4 linked regions of the Homo sapiens genome follow. The protein of the gene in region 1 purifies or fractionates together with the protein of each later gene. This does not show direct contact. Each region holds a gene or a part of one and is shown in the gene's direction. Other genes may lie near its edges. The genes, in order: COL16A1, P4HA2, IPP and COLGALT2.

Region 1 (8,652 bases):
CCAACATGGTGAAACCCTGTCTCTACTAAAAAATACAAAAATTAGCCGGGCATAGTGGTGGGGACCTGTAATCCCAGCTACCTGGGAGGCTGACAGGAGAATTGCTTGAACCCAGGAGGCAGAGGTTGCAGTGAGCCAAGATTGCGCCATTGCACTCCAGCCTGGGTGACAAGAGCGAAACTCTGTGAAAAAAGAAAGAAAGAAAAAGAGAGAAAGAAAGAAAGAAAGAAAAGAAAAGAAAAGAAAAGAAAAGAAAAGAAAAGAAAAGAAAAGAAAAGGTATTACTGGCTGCCAGGTGGGAAGAAAGAAAGAAAAGAAAAAAGAAAAGAAAAGAAAAGGTCTTACTGGCCACCAGGTGGGAAGTAAGTGGGTGGTGGGGCCCCAAGGCAGCAGGCAGATCAGCTGGGGGCTCTTGCAACAGCCCAGCAGAAGATGATCATGGTCTGGGTGAGGGTTGCAGCTGTGGAGGTGGGGAGGAGTGGATGGACGTGGGCTGTATTTGGGGGGTAGAACTGACAGGATTGGATGGGGGTGGTAGGGAAAAGAAAGGAGCCAAGGTTTTCAGGTTTTTACCTGAGCATCAGAATGAATTATCGTGGCATTTAAAGGGATGAGGAAGTCAGGAAGGGCATATCTGTGAAGAGTAATCAATCATGTGTGATGTGTCTGCGTGTGAGCCCGTATGCGCATATGCCAGGGCCCAGGTGTGCACGTGTACATGTGGGGGTTCTGGTCCACTGTTCAAGCCTCAGAACTTTACACCATCTCTGCTTGAACGCGTGGGGGCTCCCGGACCTGTCCTGGGACCAGGCCCTGGGTTGGCTCTTCAACCTGCCCCAGCCCCAGGGGCTGCCCCTGCCAGACAGGGATTCCCCAGTGGGGGGCGGAGGGCCCTTGGGCACTGCCAACATCTGGGCATACTACCCCAGGTCCAGAAGGCCTTGGTAGCCCCATGCAGCAGCAGCATGCAGGCTCCAGGGCAGCTGGTGGTGATTAGCAGCATTGATTACCTCGTGGTGATGCCATCTGGGGTGAGGGCGCTGAGCCCAGCCTCACGGGATACCCGGGTTGCTGGCGTGCAGGGCTTTCTGGCACTGACTGCATGTAAAAGTGTCAGCACAGCTGCATGTATGCATGTGTGTACATGTGTCAGTGTGTGCATGTCCCAGTGGCTGTTTCTCTGGGAGCCGAGTCTGTGTGGCCATCTATGTCTGTGTGCACACATGTATGTGCTGCAGGTCTGCAGGCTTCTCTGCTTGCATATCTGAGTAATTATGCCTGTGGTCACATGTATGTTTATGTGCACACATGTCTATGTGTACAGGCATGTGTCTGTGTGTGCACATTCGAGTATATACAGTGCTGTATGCAGGCATTCTGAGAATTATGTACCTGTGTTTGGATATGTCCAGGGATATATTTCTGTGGGGTAATCTGGGCTCTTACATGTGTTTCTGTGTATCTTTGATGTGGAGGCGTATCTTGAGTCTCTACACATCTGTGTGTAACTGTTTCTAGGGCCAGGGTGTGTCTGTGTGAACATGAGTGCCTATACATGCATATGGAGTCTGCGTACTCAAGTGCTGTGCTAGAACTTTACCTGACTGCGTGTTTCTGGATGTGTGCACGTATGTGTGGAAGGGAGGAAGGGGCATGGGCACATTCCTAGACTGTCTATGATAGTGTTTCTAGGCGTAAGGTGTGTCCCAGGCTTGGCTGTTCCTGTGAGCACCCTTGGGGTGCTGTGGGAAGGCATCTGGCTCTCCCTTCTCAGGTTCCTCCATCCCTGGCCCAGCCACCTGCCCTGTCTGGGGCACGGGTGGGAGCTGTCAGGATGGCATGGTGGTTAAGAGCACGTGCTGAGTCTAGGCTGGCTGGACATGAGTTCTGCTCCACCACTGACTAGCTGTGGGATCCCGGGCAAGTTGTGTTTTTCCTGTGCTGCAGGTTTGGGAATAAAAATGGAATTCTGCCTTAAGGCGTTGTTGTAAAGATCGAAGGAGTTAGCATATGTGAAGTTCTCAGCACAGAGCCTGACCTATATGCGCTTCCCACCTCTCCCGAGTGCCCACTGCTGGGGCAGCACCCTCTGGTAGGGCAGGCGGGGCCTGTGCCCACCCACCCCGCAGGCCAGAGTGCTCAGAAGGCCCCACCCCCTCCGCTTCCCGCCTGCTGAGCTCAGCACTTCCCAGGCCCCACCACTGCCACAGCCACATCTGGGGCCAGCTCCTCACTGGGACCACAGTGGGGCGCCTCTGTGGCGTGGTTGGGGTTTCCGCTGACTCAGCGCCTCTGGGTCTGGAGGCGGGAAATCCCAGGCCTGCCCCTACAACCTCCCCCTACCCCGGGTTAGCCGAGGCCACAGGGCTAGGCGCGTTGCTTCCACAGAGCCCCCAGAGCCCCCCTCAACTGGGGACGCTCAGTTTCTCCCTCTTCAGCCCAGCATCTCATGGCCTCTTGAACCTACTTTGTGGATCCTCAGCCTTGGTGCCAATAAATTTGCTTTCGGTCTACAGCGGGAGGAGACCCTTGGTGGGGATTCCACCTTGGTCAACGGCCCTGCCTCTGGGCAGAACTCGGAACATTACCGGCTCCTTCCTCCTCAGAGCTCCAATCTTTCAGCCCAGCTCAATTCCTCTTGCGTCCTTGGACCGTGAATATAAAGCAGGTCCCTCCCCAGTGCTGGTGTAAAGGCTTGAAATCCAGTCCCGTCCCCTGCCAGGGATCACAGTAATAACGATAATAGCAGCAAATATTTACTGAGCTCCTCTCATGTGCCAGACCGTGTGCTAAGCGCTTACAGCCTTTGGCCCATTTCCTGCTTACAGCAAAGGTCTATGAGGCATATACTCTCACGATCCCATCTTCCAGATGAGAAAACGGAGTATGGTTACACAGCACATTTGGAACCGCAAAGCCAGAGCAGGGGCCAGGGATTTGAGCCCTTCCAACCTCATGGAGTAAGGAGGAATAAGGGGACTCCCTCAGTCTCACTTCTCTGGGAGTCAGGCCAGAGCAGAGGGGGTTAATTTAGCACGGAGGAGGGAGGGGGTTCCCACCCTCCTCCTCCCAGTACAGACAGACCTAGGGACAGACTGACTGGGAATGTTAGGCAGAGGAATTGGAAAAAGCTGACCACCGAGGCTTGGGCGGCAGCCACATCATGGGTGCCACGCACTTGGGAGGAGGGTCTCTACCCTGCTCCCTCCACCCCTGTCCCCTCCCCGCCCCCCCACCCCGCAGCCTTCTGGGGGCCCAGCCAGGGACATGGAAAGGGGGAGCTCTTCAAACTCCAGGCCTGACTCTTAAAGGGCCCGCAGGAGCCCCCTTCCAGGGCAGCTCTGGGCACGTAGGGTCCCGCCTAGCTCGAGGATCGCTCACCTGGCGGTGAGGCAGGAGGGGCGGGCCTGGGAGCTCGGCCAGACCCGGGGCGGGGCTGTGCACCCCGCAGTCTAGCCGCCTCTGGTGCCGCTGGAGCCCCCTCTAGGCCCTCCTCCTCCTCCTCCCTGGCGGGCCGGTCCAGCTGTGTTCCATTAGTGTCCCTGGCAGGCCCCCAGCCCCCTGGAACCGCCTCTCTTCCCCCACCCGGAGTGGCCGGCAGTCCCCGGCAGGCGTGCGCCGGGCAGCAGACAGCCGGGAGAGCTCGAGCGCCAGGAAGCTGGGGACCCGTGACCGTCACGGAGAGATAGAGAACCCCTAGCGGACCTGAGGAACCTGGGCTCTGCTTCCTCCGCCTGCTGCCTGGACTGCTCAGTGAGGTGGGGGGATCCCCGGCCACCGGTAAGTAGGGATACAGTGGGCGGCCTCAGGGCTCTGGGCTGAGAGGCCCTTTCTGCCAGACTTGCTGTGTGACCTGAGGAAAGTGGCATTCCCTCTCTGGGCCTTGGTCGTCTTCTCTAGAGCGAGATGAGCTCTAAACTCCATCCTGGTTCTGACTCCCTGCGCCCAAATCTATGCCTCTGTGTTGGGGTGAGCCGTCTCCTTGGAAGCTTCTCTGGCTCTGTCCTTGCAGCCCTGCACTCTGGCTGGAGCCTGAGGAGTGGCGACCAGAGACTAGGAGCCGGAAGGGGACAGGATCACATCCATCCTCACGCCTCCACATGCACCCACATGGCGCCACAGCTGGCAGCCCTTCTATTGGCTGGCAGGAGGAAGACCAGGATAGGGTTTGAGAGCTGGGATGTGTATATCACTAGGATGGGGGATGAATAGGCAGGCTGGGGGCACAGTTCTGTCCCAGGGAGAAGGGGGCTGGAGTCCTATCTCCAAATATATTGGGGTAAGGGGTCCTTTCTGTTTTCATTTCCTATCCATGATTGAGGGAAGGAAAATTGGATTTCATTAGAGTTGGAAGGAATGCAGTCAGACTTGCATTAGAACTTCCCAACAGGAAGACCTACAGGAGGAGTGGTCATAGGCTGGCTGTGCGCATGTGGGTATATGCAAGCTGGTGTGTCTGGGTATATCAGCGAGCATATGTTTCCGTGAGCATGCCTGTGTGCAGATAGCTTTGTATGCACACTGGTACCACATATGTGTCCTTATGTACATGTACCTGCGCATCTGCATGTGCTGTGCTGACACATGCATGGCTCTGTGTTTGTGCACGTGAGCTGCCTGTCCTGGGGGAGGCCAGACGATGTATGGCTCTGCTGGCCACTTGCTGAGCCTGCATCGATTTATCTGGGCCCATCCATCAGGGTTTAATAAAACTAAAAGACAAGCATCCATCAGCTGGGGGCGGGGGTGGCTGGCAATGAGGTCCTGAGCCCTAGAGACCTGCTCTCCTGCCCACTATACCTATGGGGAAAGCTTCCTTGGCCCCCACACAGCCCTATGGAAGGCTGTGGCCCACAATCTCAGCCCAGTCACCAGCCCCTGACCCTGTGGGTGCCTGGGAGGGCTTCCTGGGCTGAGCTGGGTGCGCTAGTAAGGTATCAGGCTGGTATATATACCAGGACAGTGCACAAGATGCTAGACTTGAAATACTTCCACGTGTCTTGAAGAATAGCCTCTTCTTTAAGCCCTCATCACTATTCCAACTTCTCTGGCCTTCTAAGACCTTCTAGACCTCTCCCAATCCAGCAAGTATCCACTGGCACAGCCAGATGCTGCCTGGACACTATTTCAGTGCAGTAGGCAGCTTTCTGCTTTGCCTGAAAGCTGGTATCCGTGCCATACCGGTGGTTAAATATTTTGAATATCGCCTCTGCTCAAATCCTAGCCCAAGGGCTGTGGTTGGGCCTCTGAGAGAGACTGATGCCTGGCCAGACCTCCTGCCACCCCAATACCAGTGCCTGGGCCCCACAGGCTGTCCACGACTTGCCCACGTGTGGAGTTGTGCTGTGTGAACTCAGAAATCCGCCTTCCCGGTCTCTGTGGTTTTCAGGTGCTGTGGCTGTAGCTGACCTCTTTGGACCGGGATGTGGGTATCCTGGGCTCCTGGCCTGTGGCTGCTCGGTCTTTGGGCTACCTTCGGCCATGGGGCAAATACAGGTGAGATGACACAGGAGAGTCACAGTATCACAGGCCTGCAACTGGTATCCTGGGGTGCTGGGGTCCTTGCACATATGTGACCATGTATGTGTGGTCGTGTGGGCAGTTATAGCAGAGTCTAGGGGCTGGGCTCAGGGTGATCTGAGGTGTTGGCACCCTTGAGCCTGTGTGCAGTGAGCTGGAGAGTGTGTGTGCCTGTGTCTTCGTACGTTTATGTCTCTGAGCATCTCTGTGTTTGTCTCTCAGACTGGCTTTGTGCATTCGTATGTATTCCTGTGTCTCTGTGTGTAAGAGAACAACCTCCCACCCCAATACGTAAGCCAATCCTGTGGACACATTGCTGGTAGGACCAGTGGGGTGGGGAGGAACAGGCAGTGAGCTCTCCCTGCAGAAGGACGCCGCCTCCCCAGAGAACCCCAAGTCCTGCTGATCCTTTTCATGGTGGAGACTCCATCCCTCTAGCTCACGTGCTTCTCCTCCTCCACGGCTGGCCCTGAATCTCTAATAAAAGGCCCACCCCGAGGCCCAGACTCTGGATGAGACAGAGGGTGCAGCTTTCCAGGGCCCAAAGCCAGGGGAAGTTGACCGGGCAACTTGCCTGGCCTTGCTGGGTGCCCTCTGGGCTCAGTAGCTCAGCTGCTTCGCCAAGCAGGAACAGAACTCCTAGGACCCAAACCCAGCTAGGAAAAGCAGAAAAACCAAGAAGCTGAGGTGAAAGGGATTGTGGACCCAGGGTGAGTGTGGCCGCCTGCCCCTTGTATGTGCACATATGTGTTTCTGCTTGTGTGTGCGTGAGCTTTGCTCTCCTCTCCCTCACTGGGTCCCCTGGGGGGGATGGGGCAGATAATTTCAACATCTGTAAGGAATCTGGGCCCATTGCCAAGGGGTGAGTCACCCATTGCTGCTGTGATGCTGAAGACAGTGATGGTCTTTCTGACCAGACCTGGGGGAGGGAGAGTGCAGTGGGGTCATTGGCACCGGGCCCCAGGGCCCCAGGATTCCTTCTTCCAGCCAGTCTAGCCAGAGAGTGCAAGGCCAGCTTCTAGGAGCTGTCTTCACCGTCTTCTCCCACCTATCCCTCTGCATTGATGAGAAGGCCTTTTTGATTCTGGCCTCTGTCTTTCCTGTTGTAGCACCTCCCCCAACACTTCTGCTCAGTCAGCCCCAGGGCGAGGGAGGCCCATGGCTGCCCACCTGTTCTTTCAGGGCTTTGGAAACCTGAGTTAAGCTATCTCCTTCTCTGGGAGCCCTAACCCATTAATATGCCCTTCCTGGAGCTCCAAGGCCCTGGTGGTACCCTTGAGCTTGTGGTCCCCTCAGACCCTCAGTCTCTTCTCGCTGTTTCACAAGGTGGTTATTCAGGTAAATATTCATTCTGTTGGCTCCTACTTGTGTCTGGCCTGCTTGTCTGATTTGGATGTAGGACGTTCCTATTGCTGAGAACACGTGTGCCAGCTGCACATGTCATCCCTCGTGGCATGGGCACCTACAACTCCCACATGTACAGACACGTACATATAATTGTACATAACACACAATGTGCATGATTCTGACATTTCCTTACCCCTGAAGAGCTCCTCTGCCCCCCACCTGGGTGTATGTCATGGAGGGGGCACATGTGTAAATACACAGCTCCCCACTCCATCTGTGCTCGAGAGCCACCTAGAGCTTCGTGTATTCTCTCCCTTGCTGGCCTAGCTCCTGACTTGGAGTGCTGGGAGATTTGGGTTCCTGGAGTTCTGGGCCTGCTCTGCTGTTGGCTCACTTAGTGACCTTGGCCTGGGCCTCAGTCTCTGGACCTCAGTCTTCCAAACTGTATGCTGGGTTGGGGGCCTCCAGGCTTCCTGGGGAGCCAGGGTCAGAAGGCAGGTGGTGAAGGCAGGATCTAGCTGATGGTCCAGAGTGAGGACTATAAACTTGCTCCCTCCCAGGTTCCCCAGGCGTCCAGCCGTGCAGCAACCTTGGCCTGAGCGCACCTAATGCCCCCCTGCCCCTTCTCTTCTAGGTGCACAATGCCCACCTTCACAGCAGGAAGGACTCAAATTGGAACACAGTAGTAGCCTGCCAGCCAACGTGACTGGTGAGCACCCAACCATCTCATCGCGCCGTCCCTGCAACCTTCCTCTGGGAGTGATCTGTACCCCTCTCCACCTGCTCAGCTGAGCTCTTCACCTGATGTCTCCCCCAAAGGCTTCAACCTCATCCACCGACTCAGCCTCATGAAGACGTCTGCCATCAAGAAGATCCGCAACCCCAAGGGGCCTCTCATCCTGCGCCTGGGGGCGGCCCCCGTGACCCAGCCCACGCGGTAAATGCATCCATGTGACCACTGAGAATCAACACTGACCTCAGCCACACTCCTCAGCAACTCCAGATGTGGGGCTTAAGCCCAGGGGCCTGTCTGTGGGTCATTGCATCCCAGCCCCTGCCAGGAGTCAACCTGGTCTCCACCCCTGGGCTTGCAGGGTGGGCTGAGAGGTGGTACCTGGCAGACCTACCTTCTGTCTTTCCCCTGTCTCTGGCCAGCAGTGGGTGGGAACAGGTCTGCATCCTGTGGGCACTGTGAGAACACAGGATGTGGGCGGGAACCTGGCAAGAGTCATGTGCGTGTGTGCATGTGTGTGTGTGCGCACATGCGTGTGTGTGCACCCATGTGTGTGAAGTCCAAATTCCCACAAGCCCTGGCCTGGCCCCTGCTTGCCTCTTCAACCTCAGCTCTCAAAATGCTCTTTTTTATCTCTTGCTGCTCTGGTCATGCTGAACCCTTTCCATCTTTTTTTCAGTATCTCTCCTTCCACCCTTGCTCCAGTTATTCACCTAGGGTATTCTGGGTTCATTGGAAGCACTTATTCAAATTGCAATGCGATAGCGAAATAGTCATTCTGGGGATTCTTTGCTCATGGCCTCCCTGCCCCCATCAGACGTGAAGGCTCCATGAAGGCAGGCAGTGCCTCTGTATTTTCACCACTGTGTATGTGGGTTTTTTGTTTGTTTGTTTGTTTGGTTGGTTGGTTGGTTTTCTTTTTGAGACCAAGTCTTGCTCTGTTGCCCAGGCTGGAGTGCAGTGGCGTGATCTTGGCTCACTGCAACCTCCACCTCCTGGGTTCAAGCAATTCTCCTGCCTCAGCCTCCCGGGTAGCTGGGATTACAGGCGCC
Region 2 (8,045 bases), on another chromosome or scaffold:
CTGGTCAGGGCACTTTGCAGAGTACAGTGGCTTAGGCAAGGCCAAGGCTAGATGGGGATTCAAAGGGTGGGGTCAGAACAGGCATTTTCTGAGTACAGACTCAGATTATTTTCATCCAGGGACAGCCCGGATGTGGGTCTCCTGTGGGCCTCAACTCTTGAACACTCATGACATGGAGACTGTTCTAATGAATCACACTGGTTAAGTAGGCATGGGAAGAGCCTTTCTTGGCTAAAGGGCTGGCCATGGAGCAGACACCAAGTAGTGTCACTCATGCTGAGAGGAGGGCAATCTATATACCTTGTCATGTCCTTTGTGGCTCAATTGCTCTGAGAGCCTTGGGTAGGAGGGTCAAGCTCTATGTCTTATATTTCCAGATGAGTGATGTAGAAGCTGGTGGTGCCACCGTCTTCCCTGATCTGGGGGCTGCAATTTGGCCTAAGAAGGTAAGTTCTGATTCTTGTGGGTCAGAGGTTGAAGCAAGGCTCAGACTTTACTTTGTCCATGTCCCCCAGTACCATTACCTGGCCTGCCTGATTGTCACTGTGATGTGCCTTAGCCCACCTGGGGTCTGACCTGGTAGCCCAGCTTCTCCCTGTGAAGAAAGGACAGGGAGGGAAGTCCCTTCAGGGGCGGGTGAGTTCCCAGACTTCTACCTCAGAAAGGTAGGTGCTTTCTGGGAAATGTCTCTGTTGCTGGAGTCCCAGAGCCCTATCCCCTGTCCATGGGAAAATGAGGGTGTTTCTGCTCAGGGCAGAGCTTCTGTGATGCTTGCAGTCAGGTCCCTGAGCACAGTCTCTTAAGAATGTGTTCTGAAAGGCCATCTCTTTCCCAGGGTACAGCTGTGTTCTGGTACAACCTCTTGCGGAGCGGGGAAGGTGACTACCGAACAAGACATGCTGCCTGCCCTGTGCTTGTGGGCTGCAAGTGGGGTGAGTGTCTTAAGGGGTAGTGTTGGTGTTGGTGGCCTCAGCTTGGGCTTTGCTTATTGGCCTTAGATTCTGAGCTGGGAGGCAACTGCTGCCAAATTTGCTGAGACTGTCTCCCTTCTTAGGTTTTTTTCTGCTGTTATTACCATCCAGCCATGTAATGTCCATGCAGCTGGTAAATGCCAAGGCAGCTGGTTGGAAACACTCAGAGATACACAGGAAGCTGAAGAAGGCCTGAGGACGAATAGCTGCATAAGCACCATAGGTCCAGGACCCTCTGGCAAGGCTTCTGAGGGAGCAGAGTGGAGAGCTGGAAGCAGTGAGGGGAAAGAGTGTCTCAGGCAAACAAGGCCCATATGGATGGAGGCACAGGCTAAAACCAGCATACGGGTGTGGGGGCTGGCTCCCTTGTCACTTGAAGAAAGGGAGGCCTGTGGCACAGGGGCCAGAAGATGAGGCTGGAGGCTGGGACCAAACTGCAGAGGCTCAAGCTTGAGCCTTATCCTGGGAGCAGTTGTGGTGAGCCTCGGAGAGGCTCAAACCAGGATATGACAGGAAGTGTTTGTAAGGAGATGAGTGTGTAGCCCCCTTGGAGAGTTTTGAAGATAAATAGTGATAGGTTTGCAGATAATTAAGCAAATGGAAAAGAAAACAAGGCAGTTGCTGAATTCAGGGGAAAAAAAGTTGTACAAGAAAGGAAATGTAAGTATAATCTACTAGATGGCTCAGGTGTAACACATGATATAATTATGTACACACTGAGTATTACTTTAACTAAAACTTATGATTTACCTGTACTGGAAAGGTGGGAGGGGATGAGTTTGTGTTTTAGGGGTAGAATAAAAGAATTCCAAAGTTGAAAGTCAAGGAATAGAACTATAAGCATCTTATCTAGAAAAATGAGGTTAAATATCAGAAGAAACAGCTAGAGGAGTTTAATGTTCCCTGGGAGTGGAGATTAGGGATGGGAAGGAGAGGCTTAGGAGGAGTGCTATTTATCATTATAAGCCTTGCGACAATTTTATTTTTTTCAATGAAGTACATGTTATTACTTTATATTTTAAAAGCTCTGTGACTTCAGTAGTGCATTGAAATAAAATTTTTATTCATTATGAGAGAGTCTGTGAGGAACAGAATCATGGTTCCTGTGTGTTTGAAGATATGGCGTGGGGTGATAGTGCTGGCAGCAGCTCTGTTGCTCTTGTGCCCATGGCATACAGACTGGATCTGCTGGTCCACGGCTCCTGAGGTTAATGTCCAAGCCCTCTGCAATGCTGACAGTCTTCCTCATCCTCACACCCTACCTCTCAGTTTCTACCTGCCACCTCCCAGTAATATTAGGCCTCTTGAGTCCCCAACACACGTCAGGGTGGCTTCTGCCTTGATTACTTTCTCATCCTGTTGTCACTCCTGGGACCCTCTTGGTGAGAGAACCATCTGGGTATGCCCATCTTCTTCCCAGGATAACTTCTATGTAGCTTTATATTCTAGCCCTAGGATTTCCTCTTCCCTCTAAGAGCAAGAAACATGTGTGCAGGTTGCCATGGGAATAGAGCCAAAGGGCATCAAAGGTCATGGGCATGAAAGGGCATGATTAGATGCCCTTGGGTGCTATTCCCATGGCAACCTGCACACATGTATCTTGTCCCACTGGCAGAATTTCATACAATTATCTGTTTACATGTGTCTTCCTTACCAATTCTTCAGCAAATTGAGGCCTGAGATCATGTCTTGTCTTATTTGTGTCTGATTCCAGGGCACAGTGCAGGGGGTCATCATGAAGGAGTCATTCATTCAGGCTACTAAACTGACCAATAGGATTGTAACATGCTTGCTTTCTTTTCACAGTCTCCAATAAGTGGTTCCATGAACGAGGACAGGAGTTCTTGAGACCTTGTGGATCAACAGAAGTTGACTGACATCCTTTTCTGTCCTTCCCCTTCCTGGTCCTTCAGCCCATGTCAACGTGACAGACACCTTTGTATGTTCCTTTGTATGTTCCTATCAGGCTGATTTTTGGAGAAATGAATGTTTGTCTGGAGCAGAGGGAGACCATACTAGGGCGACTCCTGTGTGACTGAAGTCCCAGCCCTTCCATTCAGCCTGTGCCATCCCTGGCCCCAAGGCTAGGATCAAAGTGGCTGCAGCAGAGTTAGCTGTCTAGCGCCTAGCAAGGTGCCTTTGTACCTCAGGTGTTTTAGGTGTGAGATGTTTCAGTGAACCAAAGTTCTGATACCTTGTTTACATGTTTGTTTTTATGGCATTTCTATCTATTGTGGCTTTACCAAAAAATAAAATGTCCCTACCAGAAGCCTTAAAGAGCCTTACTTGGAGTATTTTTAAGACTGGAAGCTTTTACCAGGTTCATCATTTCCTATGCATCACCTTCATGCAGGCAGAGTCTGGATAATGAATGCTTTAGCAGCAAAAAAGCATCTTGGGTCTTGGATTTCAGACCTGGTTTCAACACTTGTGTTCCCTCTAAGTGTCAGTGTCCTTTTCTGGAAAGTAGGGTAAATAGTTTCTCTTTGTCTCCCAGAGAACATAGCACATGTGTTCATGATTGTAATGCTGTTATAATGTGTACTTCATTTTTAAATTTTGAGATAAGAATTGTTCATGATACACAGATGTATACTTAAAAAAATATGAAGGTGAGCAGGAGCACCTGTGTCAACACCAAGTTAGAAAAGAGAACGTTTTCAAGTCAGTACCTCAGGAGCCCCTTGGGAACCCCTCCTAGATCACATCTCCTTCACTGCCCCCAGCACTTTGGAGATAAATCATTGTCTCATGATGTGTGGTACTCATTCCTTTGCTTGTCTTTATAGTTTTACCATCTATGATTAGATCCCTAAATAAGTAGTTATTCTGTTTTCCCTGATTTTGAACTTTTACTAATAGAATGAGAGTAAATATTTTTGGGTATGTGGCTTCTTTTGTTCAACATTGTTTTAAGATTCATCCGTGTTGCTTGTGTAGCTGTAATTTGTTTTAATCTTTATAGTACATTCAGTTTTGTTAATGCTTATTGTAGGACTGTACCATAATACAGGCAGCATGCTGCTGATAAACACTGGAATTGATTTCAGTCTTTGTATATTGTGAATAATGCTGTGATAAACATTTTTATACATGATTCCTGGTGCACATATAAACACATATTTCTGTAGGATATATATCTAGGAGTGGAAATGTGGAGTCTTAATGGTGTTCCAACTTTACTAAATAATGTATTCCAAGGTGGTTATACACATTCTCACCAGGAGTAAATGAGAGTTATTACCCCAATCTTTTCCAGTATTTAGTATTTTCATACTTTTGAATTTTAGCTAGCTTGGTACATGTTACGGACTAAATGTTTGTGTCCCCCCACCAGATTCATATGTTGAAATCTTTTTTTTTTTTTTTTTTTTTGAGACGGAGTCTCGCTCTGTCGCCCAGGCTGGAGTGCAGTGGCGGGATCTCGGCTCACTGCAAGCTCCGCCTCCCGGGTTCACGCCATTCTCCTGCCTCAGCCTCCCAAGTAGCTGGGACTACAGGCGCCCGCCACTACGCCCGGCTAATTTTTTGTATTTTTAGTAGAGACGGGGTTTCACCGTTTTAGCCGGGATGGTCTCGATCTCCTGACCTCGTGATCCGCCCGCCTCGGCCTCCCAAAGTGCTGGGATTACAGGCGTGAGCCACCGCGCCCGGCCCATATGTTGAAATCTTAACCCCCAATGTGATGATATTAGGATGCGGAGCCCTTGGGAGGTCGTAAGCATGGAGCCCACGTGAGTGGGATTAGTGCCCTTATGAAGAGATCCCAGCCCTCTTTCTGCCATGCGAACACACAGCAAGAAGATGCCTGTCTATGAACCAGGGGGCCCTTACCAGAAACAAACCTACTAGCATCTTGATCTCGGACTTTCCAGTTCCCATAACCATGAGAAATAAATGTTTTTAATTCAATGTATGGTATTTTATTATAGCAGCTCTACCTAAGACAGTACATGTATAGTGTCTATTTGAACATTACTGATAATGTTGAACAACTTTTCATGTTTATTAGTTATTAGGTTTCTTCAAGTGTTCTTATTCATACAAATTTTAAAATATGTACACAAGTTCTTTGTTATATATTTTGCAAATATCTTCTGTGGCTTGTCTTTTCACTATTTTAGTTCTGTCTTTTGATAAACAGGAGCTTTTAATTTTTATGTCAAATCTATCAAGCTTTTTCTTTTTGATTTATGTTTTTTATGTCTTATTTGAGAAATCCTTCTATACCCCAAGATCATGAGGATGTTTCCTGTGTTCTCTTCTGAAAGCTATATAGTCTTTGTCATTTAGGTTTATCTTTATACGTGGTATGAAGTGTAAAGTTCTACTTTTAATTTTTTGCATATTTTATTAGGATAGGATGGGCTTTTTCTGTAGTAATAATCCTTAAATCTCAGGGGCTTAATATATAAAATTGTCTCATGCAAAAAACCACTGGGTCTAGGGCAATTGCTATCTACTGCCGTCTAATCTCCCTCTAGTGGCTTCCATTGGTAGACCCTAACAGGAAGCCAGCTGATAAGGGAATCTGGGAAATGTAGTTTACAGAGTGGCAGCTACAGTAGAACAGTAGAGACTACAAGGATGAGCTTGCAGCTGAGAATAGAAACGTGACTGGCACACTAGGTGGTTTGTTTGTAGGTTTTTTCTTTTCCTGTTTGAGACTTTTTTGGATTCTTGAATTTGTACAATGGTATCCTTAATCAATTGTGGAAAATTAAATGATTTTTTCTTTCAGCATTGTCTGTTTCTTCTGTAACTGATTAAATGTAAGTTGGATCATATCATGATATTATCTCTTAATCTGTCTTTCATATTTTTATATATATGCTATATTTGGGGAGAACTTTATAGCTGTTTTGTACAAAGTTCACTAATTCTGTCTTCTATCAAGTGCATACAGGAGTCTGTTTAAGGACTTTAAAGATGTAATTCTTTGTTTTCTGGCTTATACCATTTCTGTTGAAAAGTCGCTATCTGGTCCTTTGTTGTTCCTTTGAAGGTGATTTTGCCTTCACCTGGCTGCTTTAAAGATTTTTTTCTTTTTGGTTTTCAGTAGTTTTACTATGGTGTACTTAGTATGGGTTTCTTTTTCTTTTCTTGCTTGGCATTTAGCTTCTTGAATTTCTGGGTTGATGTCTGATCAATTTTGGAAATTTCTCAGACATTATATCTTCAACTATTGTTTCTGTCCCATTTTTTCTCTATCTGCTCTGAGACTTCAGTAATCTGAATGTTAGAACTTTTCATAGTGCTCTATATATCTCCAGTTCTTGTGTCTCTCATGCTTTTTTCTTTGTGTTTCAGACTAGATATTTTATACTGATCTGTCTTGCAATTCATTTATTACTTTTGCTGCTAAACCCATCTACTGAGTTCTTAATTTCATTTTTCTTATATTTCTCAGTTCTAAAATATCCATTCATGTCTTTTTTTTTTTTTTTTTTCCTTGAGACGGAGTCTTTCTCTGTCACCCAGGCTCGAGTGCAGTGGCGGGATCTCAGCTCACTGCACCCTCTGTCTCCCAGATTAAAGCAATTTTCCCACCTCAGCCTCCCAAGTAGTTGGGATTAGAGGCACGCACCACCACACCCAGCTAATTTTTGTATTTTTAGTAGAGATGGGGTTTTGTCATGTTGGCCAGGCTGGTCGCAAACTCCTGACCTCAAGTGATCCACCTGCCTCAGCCTCCCAAAATGTTGGGATTACAGGCGTGAGCCACCACGGTTGGCCCATTCATGTCCTTTTAATGGATTTTAACTCTCTGGAGAATCTGTCTTCTGTTTTCTCTGTGTTTTTCTCGGACTGATAAATCAGTTATGTGAATTTTTTTGTCCGATAACGCCATGATTTCGATTTTCTATGGCTCTCTTTCTATTGTCTTTTTCCCTCCTTAGTTTCTGGTCATTTGGTCCACTCTGTTGATATGCCTGGCAATTTTTGATTGAATGTGTATGACAAATTGTAGAGCCTCTGGATGGATAACCTCCTGCACAAAGGGCTCACCCTTTCCTCTACTATGCAGAGTGGGGATCAATCACCTTAATCCAGTAAGGATCTGAGCTGACTTAAAATTAAGACTGGGTGGTAGTTTTCTTAAGACTCTATCTCTGGTTTACCCTTATTTCCCCCCTTATAGGATGTAGTCCTCCAGGATTTTCTAATTGAGAGCCTAGTGTGTTCACTGGATCTGTTTCCACTGGCAGTTCCTCAACTCTAATTCTTGTCTTCTCAGTACCAGACTCAGCCCAAAAAATTTATCCTCCTTTTCAAAGAATTTGAATTTTTGAATCTAAGCAGATATTTTTTGCTTACCTTCTTAGCCTTGCATTCTGCACAGCGTCAGAATTCAGAAAATGCCTCAGTGGGTAAACAGGCTGAGTGGCCAAGTTCTCCACTCCTCCCTCTTATTCAATATTCTGAGAAACTACTGGCTAATTTTGGTTTTTCAATGCCCCTTGACACTGTCAAAAATTATTTTGGTTTCTCTGCCTCTTAGTAGTTGCCCATTGCTCTGGATCCTCATTCTTACCCCATGGCTACAATCAGTAAATAATAATAATAATAATAATAATTATTATTATTATTATTATTATTATTATTTTGAGGTGGAGTCTGGCTCTGTCACCCAGGTTGGAGTACAGTGGTGCAATCTCGGCTCACTGCAAGCTCCGCCTCCCGGGTTCACGCCATTCTCCTGCCTCAGCCTCCCGAGTAGCCGGGACTACAGGTGCCCACCACCACGCCCGGCTAATTTTTTGTATTTTTTAGTAGAGATGGGGGTTCACTGTGTTAGTCAGGATGGTCTCAATCTCCTGACCTCGTGATCTGTCCGCCTCGGCCTCCCAAAGTGCTGGGATTATAGGCATGAGCCACCACGCCCGGCCAGTAAATTGTTTAAGGATAAAAGAGACTACAGACTTTTGGCTCACCCACAAGATTTATCCTTCTTCAGGATCTTGATGCTCAAACTCTTTTTGCTTCAGCAATTGACTGATGTCTTCCAACAATTTTAAGAGATTTTATTCAGCTTTATTCTAGGAATGAAAATTGGTCTACCATAAGCTACTC
Region 3 (8,045 bases), about 14 Mb from region 1:
GTCACTCCACATGCCACCTTTTGGGATGACGTTCCTACTCCACTGACAGTGGGATGGTATCAGCAGTTACTGAGAAGCATGGTAACAGACTAGTATTTCTGTTGTCTGCCACCCGAATGGATATTCAGTCAACTCTTTCTTGTAGCAGGAGGCAGCATTTTAGCTCAGTGGCTGTGCTTGATGCCTTGAAGTAGGGGACAGAGGAGGTACCTTGTAATTAAACCACTAGGGTTCAAAATGTGCTGACAGAAATGTAAAACAGAAAAGGCCTGACAGTCATGTCATGTTGATAATAGTTCCAGGTCACATTTCTGTGTAGGGCCAAATACATGGTTTCTCCGCCCCCACCCCCTTTTTTTCCTTTTTTTTTTTTGAGACGGAGTCTCTCTGTTGCCCAGGCTGGAATGCAGTGGCTCCATCTCCACTCACTGCAACCTCTGCCTCCCAGGTTCAAGCGATTCTCCTGCCTCAGCCGCCCACGTCACTGGGATTACAGGCGCCCACCACCATGACTGGGTAATTTTTTGTATTTTTTAGTAGAGATGGGGTCACCATGTTGGCCAGGCTGGTCCTGAACGCCTGACCTCTGGTGATCCACCCGCCTCAGCCTTCCAAAGTGCTGGGATTAAAGGCGTGAGTCACCGCACCTGCTTTTTGTTGTTGTTGTTGTTGAGACACGGTCTTGCTCTGTTGTCCAGGCTGGAGTGCAGTGGCACCATCTCAGCTCACTGCAGCCTGGACTTCCCTGGCTCAGGTGGTCCTCCCACCTCAGCCTCCCCTGAGTAGCTGGGACTACAGGCCTGTGCTATCATGCCTGGCTAATTTTTTTGTATTTTTAGTAGAGACAGGGTTTAGCCATGTTGCCCAGACTGGTCTCAAACTCCTGGACTCAAGCGATCTGCCTGCCTCAGCCTCCTAAAAATCTGGGCTTACAGGTATGAGCCACTGTGCCCAGCCCCTTTCACCCTCTTTAAAAAATTTATTTTTCACTTCAATTTGGGTGACAGAGTGAGACCCTGTCCCCCAAAATAGATATTTTTTAAATTGGCACATAATAATTGTTTTATATTTACATTTATGAGGTACAGTGTGATATTTTGATACATGTATATAATGTATAATTATCAAATCAGGGTAATTACCATATTCATCACCTCAAACACTTCTTGCTATTATATGCTAGTTATATGTAATATGTTGATATTCTGTAGATGGTGATATGAAGTTTTAGCAGCTACCTTCGAATCTCTCAATCAAATTTCTCAATAAGTTAATTCCTAGAAAGTGATGATAATCAGCCTTGTTATTTTGACTTTGATAAGTTTAAATGCTATAAACGTAACCATTTTTTTTCTAACATCAGCCCACACTATAAGTCTTATTACCCATTGTCATTGATACCTAAATTACAAAATCTTAGTCATCTTAAATTTCCCTGTGCTATTCCATATGTCTTATATTACAGGATCTCATGGTTTTTTTTTTTTTTTTTTTTTTTTTTTTTTTTTGAGACAGAGTCTTGCTCTGTTACCCAGGCTGGAGAGCGGAGGGCAGTGGTGTGATCTCAGCTCACTGCAACCTCCATCTCCTGGGCTCAGGTGATTCTTGTGCCTCAGCCTCCCAAGTAGCTGGGATTATAGCCCTGATCCACCACGCCTGGCTAATTTTTATATTTTTAGAAGAGACGGGGTTTTGTCATGTTGGTCAGGTTGGTCTCGAACTCCTGGATTCAAGTGATCCTCACGCCTCAGCATCCCAACGTGCTGGGATTACAGGCGTGAGCCACTGTGCCCAGCAGTTTCTTTATTTAAAAAGTAATTTAGAACGTGTCCGGTGGCCTAATAATTCCTATGCAGTGTGATATGGTGGAACAGTCCTGGATTTAGAGTAAGAAGGCCTGGATTCAGATACTGAGACTGTCATACTAACATTGTATCCTTGGGGAAACTTTGAGCTTCAGTTTCCTTTTCTCTCATTTTAGATAAGATTATCTTTTCTTCTCACCTCTTAATTATTGTGAGAGTTACCATTGACATAATATGTGGAGAAGTTAAAAGTTAAAAAAAAAACCCAACCTAAGCTGTTGTTATTTCTCCTTGTTCTCATTCATTTCACAAACATTGGAAACCTAACATATGTTATATACTGGTGCTAAAGCTATGAAAGATAGTACCTGCCTTTAAAGGGCTGTGTTTCAAGGAGCTCTGAAGCGCGCGCGCGCGCTCGTGTGCGCGCGCATGCGCGCACTAAGAGTAGGGTGGTAGGGTATTTGATAAGGTAGACCTGTGCTATAGAATGTAAAACCAATAAGCTTAGGGTGAGCAACAAACTCAGATGAGTTTGGGAACATATTTCCACAATTCCAGAGGAGCAATGGGGAAAGGTTCCTGGAGGAAGTTATATTTGAACAGAGTCTTAAATTATAACAAGAATCCCGAAGGGCTTTGTGTGCTACGGGAAGTGTACACATTGAATGATTTTAAGCAGTTAGACTGATCACAACTGCTTTTCGAAAGTTGCTGTTGTCTGTGATGTGTGCTCTGTGATGTGTGCTTTGTTAACTTTCTGTCTTTGTGTTTTATTATTATTTTTTTTACTCCATCAAGAAGTGTCCTCTCCTCATACCTTAATATTAACTGTTTATCTTTCAGTTTCTAGTGCAGGTCCCATTTCTTGTGTGAAGCATTCTCCAATTATTTTAGCTTCCCTACTTATTTCATTCTCTGAAACCATATTAGAAATAGTAATAGTACCACACTTTAGTCCTTATTTGTTTTATGTCCTTAAGTAGATTTTAAGTATAGAGAATGCTTCTTATGTGTGAATAGAAAGCATGTTAAAAAAATTTTGTTGCTTGATCTCTTTGTATTTTGTTTTTCAGGGTAGTAACAGATTATGGGCAACAGTCCTTTTAATTAATCTACCGTCATCATGGCTAATGAGGACTGTCCCAAGGCTGCTGATAGTCCTTTTTCATCAGATAAACATGCCCAACTCATCTTGGCCCAAATCAATAAGATGAGAAATGGACAGCATTTCTGTGATGTGCAGCTGCAAGTTGGACAGGAAAGTTTTAAAGCTCATCGGCTGGTTTTGGCTGCCAGCAGTCCTTACTTTGCAGCTTTGTTCACTGGAGGAATGAAAGAGTCCTCAAAAGATGTTGTACCGATTCTAGGAATTGAAGCAGGAATCTTTCAGATACTTCTAGATTTCATTTACACAGGTATGTTACATGAGTCTGTTGCTTTGACTGAAGAATGATTCAATCACTCATGCACTAATGTGGAAATATAAATTGATCTAACTTATCTAGAAGGTAATTTAGCAACATGTTATTATGTGACTGAAAATTCATATCTTATGACCCGGTGCTCCTTTTCTAGGAATCTGAAGGAATTAATTAGTGATGCAGGCACATATTTACAAACCAGGATTTTATTGTAACATTATTATTATTATTTTATTTTATTCTTTTTTTGAGATGGAGTCTCTCTCTGTCGCCCAAGCTGGAGTGCAGTGGGGCGATCTTGGCTCATGGCAACCTCTGCCTCCCAGGTTCAAGCGATTCTCCTGCCTCAGCCTCCTGAGTAGCTGGGACACAGGCGCATGCCACCACACCTGGCTAATTTTTTTTTTTTTTTAATTTTTAGTAGAGACAGGATTTCACTGTGTTAGCCAGGATTGTCTCGATCTCCTGACCTCATGATCCGCCCGCCTTGGCCTCCCAAAGTGCTGGGATTACAGGCGTGAGCCACTGCGCCTGGCCTGTGACTTTATTTATAGTAGTATATAATTGAATAAAATCTTGTCTCAGTAGGTTTTATGGCTAAATAAATTATGATACATGTATAGATCTCACAAATGAGATCTAACAAATCTTAAAATATATGTATACTATTATGGAAGAATGTTTACAATATATAAAATTTTAAAAATCAGGATATAAATAAACCCCTATTTTGTTTGAAACACAACCCAAAAAAACTTATATGTATTTACACATGAGAAAGCAGCCAGAATGTTTGATAGCATTTATCTGTAGGTAATTTTTTTCCACAAAGTGTTTATAATCAGCATATGTTATTTTACTCAAAACTATCTCTTAAATGTTTTTGAAGAGTTTTAATAACATTAGAGAATGTACACAGGGGCACAGTGGTTCATGCCTGTAATCCCAGCACTTCGGGAGGCCAATGTGAGAGGATTGCTTGAGGCCAGGAGCTCAAGACTATGCAGGACAACATAGCAAGACCCCATTTCTAAAACAAAAAAAATTTTGTTTGAGACAGGGTCTCTCTCTGTTGTCTAGGCTGGAGTGTGGTGGTGCACTCACACTTCAATGCAGCCTTAATCTCCTGGGCTCAAGTAGTGCTACCATCTCACCACCCTGCATAGCTGTGACTACAGGTATGTGCCACCATGCCTGACTAATGTAAAACAAATTTTTTGTAGAGACAGGGTCTCACTACATTGCCCAGGCTAAAAAAAAATTTTTTTTTTTTTTTGAGACAGAGTCTCGCTCTGTCACCAGGCTGGAGTGTAGTGGCGTGGTCTCGGCTCACTGCAACCTCCGCCTCCCAGGTTCAAGTGATTCTCCTGCCTCAGCCTCCCGAGTAGCTGGGACTACAGGCACGTGCCACCATGCCCAGCTAATTTTTATATTTTTAGTATAGACGGGGTTTCACCATGTTGGCCAGGATGGTCTCGATCTCTTGACTTCGTGATCCACCTGCCTCGGCCTCCCAAAGTACTGGGATTGCAGGCGTGAGCCACTACGCCTAGCCAAAAAAAAATTTTTTTTAATTAGCTGGGTGTGTGGCTTGTGTCTTTAGTCCCAGCTAACGGGAGGCTGATGTGGGAGGATCCAGGAGTTTGAGGCTGCAGTGAGCTATGATCAAGCTGCTGCACCCTGGACTGGGAGACAGAGTGAGACCCCATCTCTGAATAAAATAAAACAACTGGAATGATGAAGAGGGGAGTAGGGGAAGGGGAAAGAAAGAGAAGGCACACCAAAACGATGTATAGTCTTACAGGATATGCAATAAATATGCATAGAAAAAAGATTTGAAAGGCTGAGATGGGATGATCACTTGAGCCCAGGATGCTGCGGCTTCAGTGAGTGATGATCATGCTACTGCACTCCAGCCTGGGCAACAGAACAAGACACTGTCTCAAAAAGAGAGAGAGAAAAACTATGTGAAGAAAGACACTACAGTGTTAATACAATGTATGTCTGTGTATGGAAAAATATGTTTTTCATTTTAGTTTTTCTGTCTTAAAGTTCTTTTTCCACAGTGAATATATATTACTCTTTTTTTTTTTTTTGGTGACGGGGTTTCACTTTGTCGCCCAGGCTGGAGTATAGTGGCACAATCTTGGCTCACTGCAACGTCTGCCTCCCAGTTTCAAGCGATTCTCCTGCTTCAGCCTCCCAAGTAGCTGGGATTATAGGCTTGCACTAACATGCCCAGCTAATTTTTGTATTTTTTTTTTTAGTAGAGACGGGTTTTCACCATGTTGGCCCGGCTGGTCTCAAACTCCTGACCTCAAGTGATCCACTCACCTCAGCTTCCTAAAGTTCTGGGATTACAGGGGAGAGCCACTGTGCCCAGCCTCTTTTATTTTTTATTTTGTGAGACAGAGTCTTGCTTTGTCACCCACGCTGGAATGCAGTGGCAAAATCATTGCAGCTTGACCTCCAGGGCTCAAGCTATCCTCCCACCTCAGCCTCCTGAGTACCTGTAGGACCACAACACACACCACCATGCCTGGCTAATTTTTAAATTTTTTTTGTAGAGATTATGTCTAGCTATGTTGCCCAGACTGGTCTCAAACTCCTAGGCTCAAGCAATCCTCCCACCTCAGCCTCCCTAGTAGCTGAGACTACAGGCGCACATGCTACCACACCTGGCTAATTTTTTTTTTTTTGAGGCGGAGTCTTGCTGGGCTTAGTGGCGCACACCTGTAGTCCCAGCTACTCAGGAGGCTGAGCCAGGAGAATTGCTTGAACCTGGGAGGCAGAGGTTGCAGTGAGCAGAGACCATGCCACTGTACTCTAGCCTGGGCAACAGAGCAAGAGCCTGTCTCAGAAAAAAAAAAAAAAAAAGATGGGTGTGGTGGCTCACGCCTGTAATCCCAGCACTTTGGGAGGCTGAGGTGGGTGGATCACCTGAGGCCAGGAGTTCGAGACCAGCCTGACCAACATGGTGAAACCTCGTCCCTACTGAAAATACAAAAATTAGCTGGTTATGGTGGTGCGCATCTGTAATCCTGGCTACTTAGGAGGCTGAGGCAGGAAAATCACTTGAACCCAGGAGGTGTTGGTTGTAGTGGGCCGAGGATGCACCACTATACTCCAACCTGGGTGACATAGTGAGACTCTGTCTCGAAAAAAATAAAAAAATAAAAAAATAAAAAAAAGAAAGTGAAGCCCTTGGAAAAGAAAGTGGTATACGTAGTTAAGTATTTAATAGTTTCTCTTATGTTATAGATTATTGGTTATTCCTAATATTAAAAACTAGCATTGTGTATAATCCCTGCACTTTGGGAGGCTGAGGTGGGTGGATTGCTTGAGCCCAGGAGTTTGAGATCAGCCTGGGCAATGCGGCAAAACCCTGTCTCTAAAAAAAAAACCACAGAAAATTAGCCGATCATGGTGGTGAGTGTCTGTAGTACCAGCTACTCGGGAGGTTGAGGTGGGAGGCTCACCTGAGCGTGGGAGGCAGAGGTTGCAGTGGGCCAAGATTGCGCCACTGCACTCCAGCCTGGACAACAGAATGAGACACTGTCTCAAAACAAGCACAAACAAAAAATGAACATTATGTGGCGTTTTATCATAATTGAAGATAGAGACCTTGTCTTACTCTCCCCAGTGCCTCAGTAAATGTCTGTTACATGCATATAACCTTATGTTAAAAGCATAGACTTTATTTGTTGTTGTTGCTGTTGTTGTTTGTTTTTTTTCTTTCCAACTTTTAGGTTCAAGAGGTACATATGCGGGTTTGTTCCATGGGTAAATTGTGTGTCTTGGGGGCTTGGTATGTAGATAATTTTGTCCCCCAGTTAATCAGTATAATACCTGATAGGTAGTTTTTCAATCTTTACCCTCCTCCTACCCTCCACTCTCAAGTAGGCCCGAATGTGTATCCATGTCTTCTTGGTGTCCACGTGTATGCAATGTTTAGCTCCCATTTATGAGTGAGAACATATGATATTTGGTTTTCTGTACTTGTGTTAATTTGCTTAGAATCATGGCCTCCAGCTCCATCTGTGTTGCTGTAAAGCACATGATTTCCTTCTTTTTTATGGCAAAAGCATGGACTTTGATGTCAACCCCTACCTTGCAACTTGCTTTACCATGCAACTTGTGGACAAGTGACTTAAACTTTGATTCTGTTTCTTTAATATGAAAATAAGGCTGGGCGCGGTGGCTCACGCCTGTAATCCCAGCACTTTGGGAGGCCGAGGCGGGCGGATCACAAGGTCAGGAGATCGAGACCATCTTGGCTAACACGGTGAAACCCCGTCTCTACTAAAAATACAAAAAATTAGCCGGGCGCAGTGGCGGGCGCCTGTAGTCCCAGCTACTCGGGAGGCTGAGGCAGGAGAATGGCGTGAACCTGGGAGGCGGAGCTTGCAGTGAGCCAAGATTGTGCCACTGCAATCCGGCCTGGGCTAAAGAGCGGGACTCCGTCTCAAAAAAAAAAAAAAAAAAAAAAAGAAAATAAGAAAAATAATAATATCTACCACATGGGATTATAATAAGGGTTAAATTAGCATATAAAGCAATTAATACTGCACCTGGTTCATTGTAAGTTTTTCATAAATGTGTTAGGTATCGTTATCGTTTAAATTTTGTGCTCTTTACTCAAATCCTTGATTGCCTTTTTTAGTGTCTGTCTACTCTGCAGGCATCAAACTATCAGTGAAATCAAGTATAATACTTTTTGAATATGGTAAGCCAATGTTTGTTTTTATTTTATTGGCCATTTTGTCTTCCTACTTCTCTAGGTATAGTGAACATAGGTGTGAATAATGTCCAGGAG
Region 4 (8,045 bases), about 150 Mb from region 1:
CTAACACTGTGATAAGGAATTTTTGTTTTGCTTAGTTTTAACTTACTCCTCTTCATAATGTTTTAAGTGAAGAATAAGGTGCTTTATGGTAAATTCTGAGTTTCAGGAATTGCTCTCTGCATGCTTCCTATCACGAGACCAGTGGTTAGACTCTCATTGCGCTCTTCATGGCGTACCCTGGACGTTGGTAGCTTGTGGCCATGAGTCACAAAGGATGTGACTTTTGCTGACGTTGCACTTTTTGGCACAATCACAAACTCAGTGGAGCCTGTGGCCTTCTTCCACGTTGCTTTCTGGACCACTTTCCCACCTCTGTGAGTTGCTAAGGGCTCCTCCTACCCCATCTTGGTCCTAACATGCTCACCTGGTATCCCTCAAAACTGTCAGATTCACACATCACCTCTCTCCCTCTCCAGGCCATGGAATGTCCAGGTGGGCCTGTGGGTCGTTCTCCCTCCTAGACCTTGCCGAGAAGAGAAGAGTTGGTTCTCATCTAATTTCAAGAAGACACTTGAAAGTAGATCAAGTTGGCCATTGGTGTCATCTGTAGTTATTGGATAATGTTTTTAAGTAGGCTAGTTTTAATTTAAGTATCTATTTTACAAGATAATATTTTCAAATATTACTTACATACCTCTATGTCCCATTTTTCTACACCCTATGGCTTAAGTTACATAGTTTTAAGTTTCTTGGTATTTTACAGAAATGTATTCCCTATCTAAATAGAGTTCCACTGTGCTTTGCTTAACAATGTATTTTTCTCTCTTGAACATTCCTGAACATTCCCTCTCTTAAAGATTATTATTTTAGGAGATAAAAAAAATTTTTTGAATATATTTAGTGGCAATTTAAAACCAATTAAAAACTATAATGTTTCATGTTTAATGAAAAGGAGTTTTTTGTGTTTTATTTATTTATTATATTTATTGAGAGAGCATCTCGCTCTATCACCCAGGCTGCAGTGCAGTGGCCCGATCTCGGCTGACTGCAATCTCCACCTTGCAGGTTCAAGCGATTCTCCTGCCTCAGCCTCCCAAGTAGCTGGGACTAACAGGCACGTGCCACCATACCCAGCTAATGTTTTTTTTTTTTTTTAGTAGGGACGGGTTTCACCATGTAGATCAGGCTGGTCTCAAACTCCTGACCTCAAATGATCTGCTCACCTTGGCCTCCCAAAGTGCTGCAATTGCGGGCATGAGCCACCGCACTTGGCCTTTATTTATATTTACTTTCAATTTATTTTAAATCATCCTACAAATAGCAGTGAAAGTAATGATGCAATAGAAGCTAAATTATTTCATGTGTACCTCTGATCATTTTTCAAAACTGTATTATATCATATATATTTTTGATGAAACTTTATTTATTTTTAAATTTCAACTTTCATTTTAGATACAGGGAGTATATGTGCAGGTTTGTTCCATGGGAATATTACGACACCCTTATCATATACTAAATTTCTGTACTTACTGTTCTGTGCCACTGGGCTCCCTATGTCATTTATCCCTGTGTCATTACCACACAGTTTTAATTGTAGTGGCTTATTTTTTTAGTATCTGCTTGAATTGTATTCTGTGTGGTTATTAAAAACCAGGATTAGGTGTGGAATTTTGTTAAAGACCTTTTACACATTTACAGAGATAATCATGATTTTTCTTCAGGTCCATAAACATAGTGAATTATGTTAGTGAAATTCCTTCATATTGAAAATTCTTAGACCATGCTATATTTTCTTAATAAGATGTTGGACTCTGTTTGCTAATACTTCATTTAAGATTTTTGCAGCATGTGCATTAAAGGATATTGGTCTGTAGTTGTGTGCCTGTGTGTGTGTGTGTGTAAATCTTTATAAGGTTTAGACATCAATATTATACTTGCAATATTAGAAGAACTTAGAATTTTCATTTTTTTCCTGCACTCTGGATAACAAGCTGTATAGCATTGGAAGTATCTATTGTAGGATTTGGTAGAATTCCCTTGTAAAAACACATGAGCCTAGTTGGGGTTTTTTTCCTGTTTACTCTCTTCTTGGAAATTATTCATTTAAGCTTTATATCACTTCAGGAGTTAATTTTGCTAACATGCATTTTTCTGGAAAATCTTCTATTATATTTAGTTTTCAAATTTATCATCGAGTTGTACAAAGTAGTTGCTTACACATTTTTAAAATTTTTCTTTCAAATCAATCTTCTTGTTTCCCATCCTTACCATTTCTTATTGTTTTATATTTGTTTGTCTTAGGTAGGTTAACTACAGCTTGTCTTTTATTGATCTTTCTCAAAGAAGTAGCATTTTAGTTTGTTTCTACTCTTTTTCTGTTTTATATCTCACAACTTTCTACCCTTATCTTTATTAATTTCTTTATATATGTTTGCTTTGTTGCTTTTTTCCTAGCTTTTTGAGTAGAAATTTAACTCATTTATTTTTATTTATTTAAGCATATAAAACTGAATTTTTCTCTAATCACTGCTTTAATTGTATCCCAAAATTCTGATATGTAGTATTTTCATTATTAATTTTTGGAAGTTCTGAAATTGGTTTGTATTTATTTTTCCACTAGTAATTGTTATTTTTTAAAAAACAACTTTATAAGAGAGTTTTTAGTGGATTTGGGGGATTTTATTTTATTATCAACTTCTACGTATATGTCATTTAGATCAGAGAATGTTGTTTATATAATTTCAATTTTATGGAGGCTTTCTTTGGGATGTAATTGTTGGTCAGTGCTAGCAGATGTTCCATGTGCACTTGAGAAGTCTCTATTAGTATGTTGTACAGATCCTATATATACTTACTTGTTTCCCCATTTGTACCATCTTTAACTGAAAGTGGTATGTTAATATCTCTTATTATTGTTATTTCTGTTTTTCTTTACAGTTTCTATACTTTCTACTATATTAGGGGTCAGCAAATTATAGCCTACAGACTGCCTGTTTTTGTAAATAAAGTTTTGTTGGAACACAGCAATGCTCATTCATTTACATATTGTTTATGGTTGATTTATCACTACCATGGCAGAGTTAAGTAGTAGCTGCAGATAGTATATGGCCTGTAAACCTAAAATGTTTACTATCTATCGCTTGAAAGAAAGTTTGCCAACCCCTGTAATATATGAAAATGTATAGATATTCATACTTTGTATATTTTGATGTGAATGGCCTCCTTTAGTATTATAAAGTCTCCTTCTTTGTCATCTTAATACTCTTTGGCCTGAATTCTACCTCGTTTGTTGTCAGGATTACAACTCCTGCTTTCTTCTCTTTTTCTGTTTTTCATTTCATTATCTCTTCATTTATAGGTGTTCTGAATAACTGTTTTACATGTGTTGGGTTTTGCTTTGTGATACAATTTGAAAATACTTTTTAAATAAATGAGTTAGGCCCTTTTACAAGTGGATCCATTTGTTAAACTTTCAGGGTAGAACAGGCACAAGTTTTGTGTACATTATTTAAAGGCTTTGGAAAATACTCTATTTTGTAAACGTGATGGTAAAGTTAATCCAAAATAGATAATTGAACATACCTTAAATTTTGAGTTTTATATTGAGAATTATTATTGTAGCTTCACAATGATTAAAGCAGCATTGACTAGATATTTTGCTGCGGTCAGAAAATTGACTTGAAATGAAGATGAAGCAGAATTATTGCTCAAATTGAGGGTCATTGTTAATGAAGTTAAAAGGTGGAGTTTACATCCTGGGTAACTGAAAGTTAAAACATATAGAAAAATTTCCAAGAAGATTCATTAATTGACTCTCAGTTAATTCATTTTATGCTTACACTCTCTTGGTGTTTTCATGTGTTTATTTATTAATGCAACCATTTACACGTTCTCCAATTGGCTGAGCCCTGTTTTAGGATCTAATGACACAAAGATGATTTTAAGCAGTGTCTCTCACTTTGGAAATTTATTGTCTAGTTTGGACTATGAGGGAATTATTTTCATATATACAATTTTTTTTCCAGGAGTAGCCATTCTTCTTTCAGTTAGTCAGGGGTCTTTTGGATTTCCCTCTCTTTCATTGGATGACATAGTTAAACTATATTGTGCTTTCTCTCATGCAGGGCAGCCACTGATCACAATGTGGATAATACAACAGAAATATTCAGGGAGTGGTTGAAAAATGTACAGAGACTCTATCACTATGTGGAGTGGAGGCCTATGGATGAACCAGAGTGAGTAGCAAGTGCGAAATTTGTAAACTCATTATTTACCCTTCCTCTTTAACTAGCTCTTTAGGGCTTCCAGGTTTGGAGGTACATGTGACTTTTCATTGTCTTTCATTTCTGTAGCTATGTGAGTTCTGAATATCTGCCATTTCTCCCTTTTAGAGATCTTCACAGTACTCTCTTGCTGTTTACTCCCACAGCTGCCAGCCAAGTTCAGATTTTCATTACTTCATAAATAAATTGCCATGACAGTTTATATTTTTAAATATTGATATTATTTATTCATATTTTAAACAAACTTTTATATTTGGAGGATCATATTGAAAATGTGTATACTTTCTACATAGAGCTTGCTTTTTTCAACTTTTATCTTGATAATCATTCTATAGCAATAGTTAAGGAGCTAATTTTCATTTTTTTTACTGCATAATCACTGTTGTATGTGCATTTACCATAATTATTTAATTGATCCCCTACTGATGCTCATTTAGGTAATTTCCTATCTTAACCATAGAAATTCCTTCTTTCTTTCTTTTCCTTCTTTTCTTTCTTTTCTTTTCTTCGCTTCTCTTCTCTTCTTTCTCTCTCTCTCTCTCTCTCTCTTTCTCTCTTTCCTTCTTTCTTTCAAGACAGGGTCTCACTCTGTCACCCCAGCTGGAGTACAGTGGCATGACCATAGCTCCACTGTAACCTCGTACTCCTGGGTTCAGGCAATACTCCTCACTCAACCTCCTGAGTAGCTAAGACCACAGCCATGCACCACTATGCCTGGCTAATTTTATTTTTATTTTTTGTAGAGACATGATCTCACCATGTTGTCCAGGCTGGTCTTGAACTCCTGGCCTCAAGCGATCCTCCCACCTTGGCCTTCCAAAGTGCTGGGATTACAGGTGTGAGCCTTTGTGCCTGGTTACCATAACAATTTCTTTCTTTTTTTTTTTTTTTGAGACAGAGTCTTGCTATGTCACCCAGGCTGGAGTGCAGTGGTGCAATCTTGGCTCACTGCAACCTCCGCCTCCTGGGTTCAAGCAATTCTCCTGCCTCAGCCTCCCGAGTAGCTGGGACTACAGGTGTGTGCCACCACACCCAGCTATTTTTTTGTATTTTGAGTAGAGAGGGGATTTCACTATGTTAGCCAGGATGGTCTCGATCTCCTGACCCTGTGATCTGCCCGCCTTGACCTCCCAAAGTGCTGAGATTACAGGTGTGAGCCACCGTGCCCGGCCACCATAGCAATTTATTAATTGCTTCTATCTCCAAGTCATCCTACATACCATACAGTCAAATCAATCTACCTCAAATACAAATGAAATGGTTTCATTTCTTTATTAAAAATACTTCACTTACTCTTTAGGACCTGAACAAAGTTCAAACACCTAAGACTTATATTTTTAAAATTCCATGAATTTAGCACCAAAAGAAAATGTGCTTTATCCAGAACGTTTCTTTTATTTCCAAACCCCACACTGTTGCTTGTGCAGGTCCTGGAAGACCCTTTCCTTCTTTATAACTAATTCTTATCCTAAATCATGCCTACTATAGAAACCTATTCTTAATCACTCAGTTATAAATATCTACCTTTGTCTCAACAATTGTATTGCTTATATTCTATGTCATCCTTTTTGGCACAATGATATACGCAACCAACATTTTCCCCCTATGCAATTAATGTATTTTTTTTCTAAATAAGTTGTAAGTTCTTTGGCAGGGGCTAGAATATATAAACACTTTATATTCCCCCTCTCCCCTCAGAGCCATGTTCTTGGCAGGCACTAAATTAATACTGGTTGGATGAACAAATAAGAACAAGAATAAATGTATTTAAAACTTACTATTATAAATGTTCCCAAAGCTACTACAGTTTTACTTTAAGGAACTGTAGAAATAGAATGAAGGAGTTGCCTGAATTTCTTCCCCAGAGAAGTCATTTATTGAAAGCCAAATTTGTATTATAGTAATAATAAATGCCATTCCAGAACAAGTTTCTGTTCTTCTAGTCTTTCTATATGTAAGAATTATTATAAATATTTATATTATAAAGAAATATATATAAATATGATATAATATATACATATGTGTTTCTCAAATCCAAGCCCATGGACTGTATATCAAGCAAAATTTAACAGTGAAGTCTGAACACCGTAAAAGATTGTAAACACTCCTTTAGAGTGCCTTATAATGGAGTTTGGCCTAACAAAAATGGCACAGAAATACTTTGTGTCCCTTCTTTGCACCTTGGTAATGTTCTCTGCAGCCAGGTTTTGACTAAATATATTATATGCCAAGGTCAGTGTGAAAAAATATTAGAACAGGCATTTTTGGGGGGAATATATTTAGAAAAATGAGAATTCCACTGATTTTCATTGAAACAATAACTGGGGAAGATATTCCAGAGAATTCCTGTGCTGTACATAGTTTTATTAACCTTATTTGTTTAGTTACAGTCTCATTGTTTTTGCAGTTTTTCACTCACTAAAACAAATGTACTGCCAGTGCAGCTATGAGATCTTGAAGTGGTGGCCAGTTTTGGGTTACTGCAACAGTATCAATGTCCGTGCCAGCTGGGTGCCTTCAGAAGGGTTTTGGAGCGTGCTCCAACCCACTTGCCTATGTGGCCATGAAGGAGTCTTGGCCTGGCTGTTTTGTGAATCTTGATAGAGATCCCACGACCTCACTTTACCTAAGATAGATCAATGTGTTAGGCTGTGTGGAATCATTTGTGGAGACTCCAACAAGTAGATTAAACCTTTGATTTTCCTGGGAAACTCATGTTTTACACTGCATACTCTCCAAATCTATTCGATGTCGGGATGTATAAAAATTGTCTAGGAACATGAGCTTTTTGCTTGGATTCAAATCTTGATTGTGCCCCATTGTGTAACATTGGACGAATGACTTAACTGCTCTACCCTGATATCCTCACCTGTGAAATGCAGAGAATAGCAGTACTCACCTCAAAGGGCTCTCATTAGAACCCACTGAAATATTTCATGTAAAGATTCTTGTATACAATGAGCAGTGAGTTACTTGACTTCTCATTGCTCCGGTTTCCTCATCTGTAATATGGGGATGATGATAACAATAATAATAGTATCTACTTCCTGGGATTGATAGAAGATTAAATGAATACATATAAACATTTAGGACAGAGCCTGGTACATGTAGGCACTCAATAATGATGAGCTATTATTATTATTTTAGGTCTTACCCTGATGAAATTGGACCAAAGCACTGGCCAACCTCCCGGTTTGCCCATGTGATGAAACTACGACAGGCAGCCCTTCGAACTGCGAGGGAAAAATGGTCAGACTACATTCTGGTAAAAACAGATGTTTGATTTCTTGACAACTGTCATCTCAGGTGTATCCAAATCAGTCGTCCAAAAACTAGAACCATGGAAGCAATCAAAACAACCTTTTTGATTAGGCAGTGCCTCCCCCACTTTTTAAGAAAGGCACAATGAAATTTTTGGTAGTTTAAAATTGGGCTACCTGGACTTCATCTTCAGGCCCACATGCATTTTCAGTGGGTAAGTGAAGAAGTGCCTGAATTATTTGGTCTCTGCCATGCAACAGGCATAAGAACTCTGCATATTTTTAGCTCACAGGAAAGGCTGTAGGTAAAGCAATGTAAGTTGTTCTTACAACTTTTTGGAAGAATTTGGGGGATATGAAAAAGTAATTATCTAAAAAAGTGATTCAGCTGAACAGCTCTGAAATGGTTCCCTTTTGCTCCTGAATGATCTGGGGAGTAGCATCTGTTGCTTGGCACAGTGATGCTCTCTTTGGAGAATTTATGTCCATCCCCATCCCCTCAACCACAGTGAAAATCTGCCCAAAAATGTATCACGCACACTTGTGACACAAATCCTTTCAT

Evidence for each region.
Region 2: the proteins of COL16A1 (region 1) and P4HA2 purify together in Homo sapiens (co-immunoprecipitation; one large-scale study listed by IntAct). This does not show direct contact.
Region 3: the proteins of COL16A1 (region 1) and IPP purify together in Homo sapiens (affinity purification with mass spectrometry; one large-scale study listed by BioGRID and IntAct). This does not show direct contact.
Region 4: the proteins of COL16A1 (region 1) and COLGALT2 purify together in Homo sapiens (affinity purification with mass spectrometry; one large-scale study listed by BioGRID and IntAct). This does not show direct contact.

The regions. Positions count from the first base shown.
Region 1 is NC_000001.11:31,698,965-31,707,616, reverse strand, and holds the start of COL16A1 (collagen alpha-1(XVI) chain precursor), read left to right. Parts: upstream 1-3,599; 5' UTR 3,600-3,780; intron 3,781-5,389; 5' UTR 5,390-5,423; coding exon 5,424-5,496; intron 5,497-7,501; coding exon 7,502-7,576; intron 7,577-7,686; coding exon 7,687-7,804; intron 7,805-8,652. UniProt on the Homo sapiens protein: Involved in mediating cell attachment and inducing integrin-mediated cellular reactions, such as cell spreading and alterations in cell morphology.
Region 2 is NC_000005.10:132,187,813-132,195,857, reverse strand, and holds the end of P4HA2 (prolyl 4-hydroxylase subunit alpha-2 isoform 2 precursor), read left to right. Parts: intron 1-377; coding exon 378-446; intron 447-835; coding exon 836-932; intron 933-2,777; coding exon 2,778-2,848; 3' UTR 2,849-5,711; downstream 5,712-8,045. UniProt on the Homo sapiens protein: Catalyzes the post-translational formation of 4-hydroxyproline in -Xaa-Pro-Gly- sequences in collagens and other proteins.
Region 3 is NC_000001.11:45,741,298-45,749,342, reverse strand, and holds part of IPP (actin-binding protein IPP), read left to right. Parts: intron 1-2,881; 5' UTR 2,882-2,931; coding exon 2,932-3,223; intron 3,224-8,010; coding exon 8,011-8,045. UniProt on the Homo sapiens protein: May play a role in organizing the actin cytoskeleton.
Region 4 is NC_000001.11:183,974,540-183,982,584, reverse strand, and holds part of COLGALT2 (procollagen galactosyltransferase 2), read left to right. Parts: intron 1-4,064; coding exon 4,065-4,175; intron 4,176-7,370; coding exon 7,371-7,488; intron 7,489-8,045. UniProt on the Homo sapiens protein: Beta-galactosyltransferase that transfers beta-galactose to hydroxylysine residues of collagen.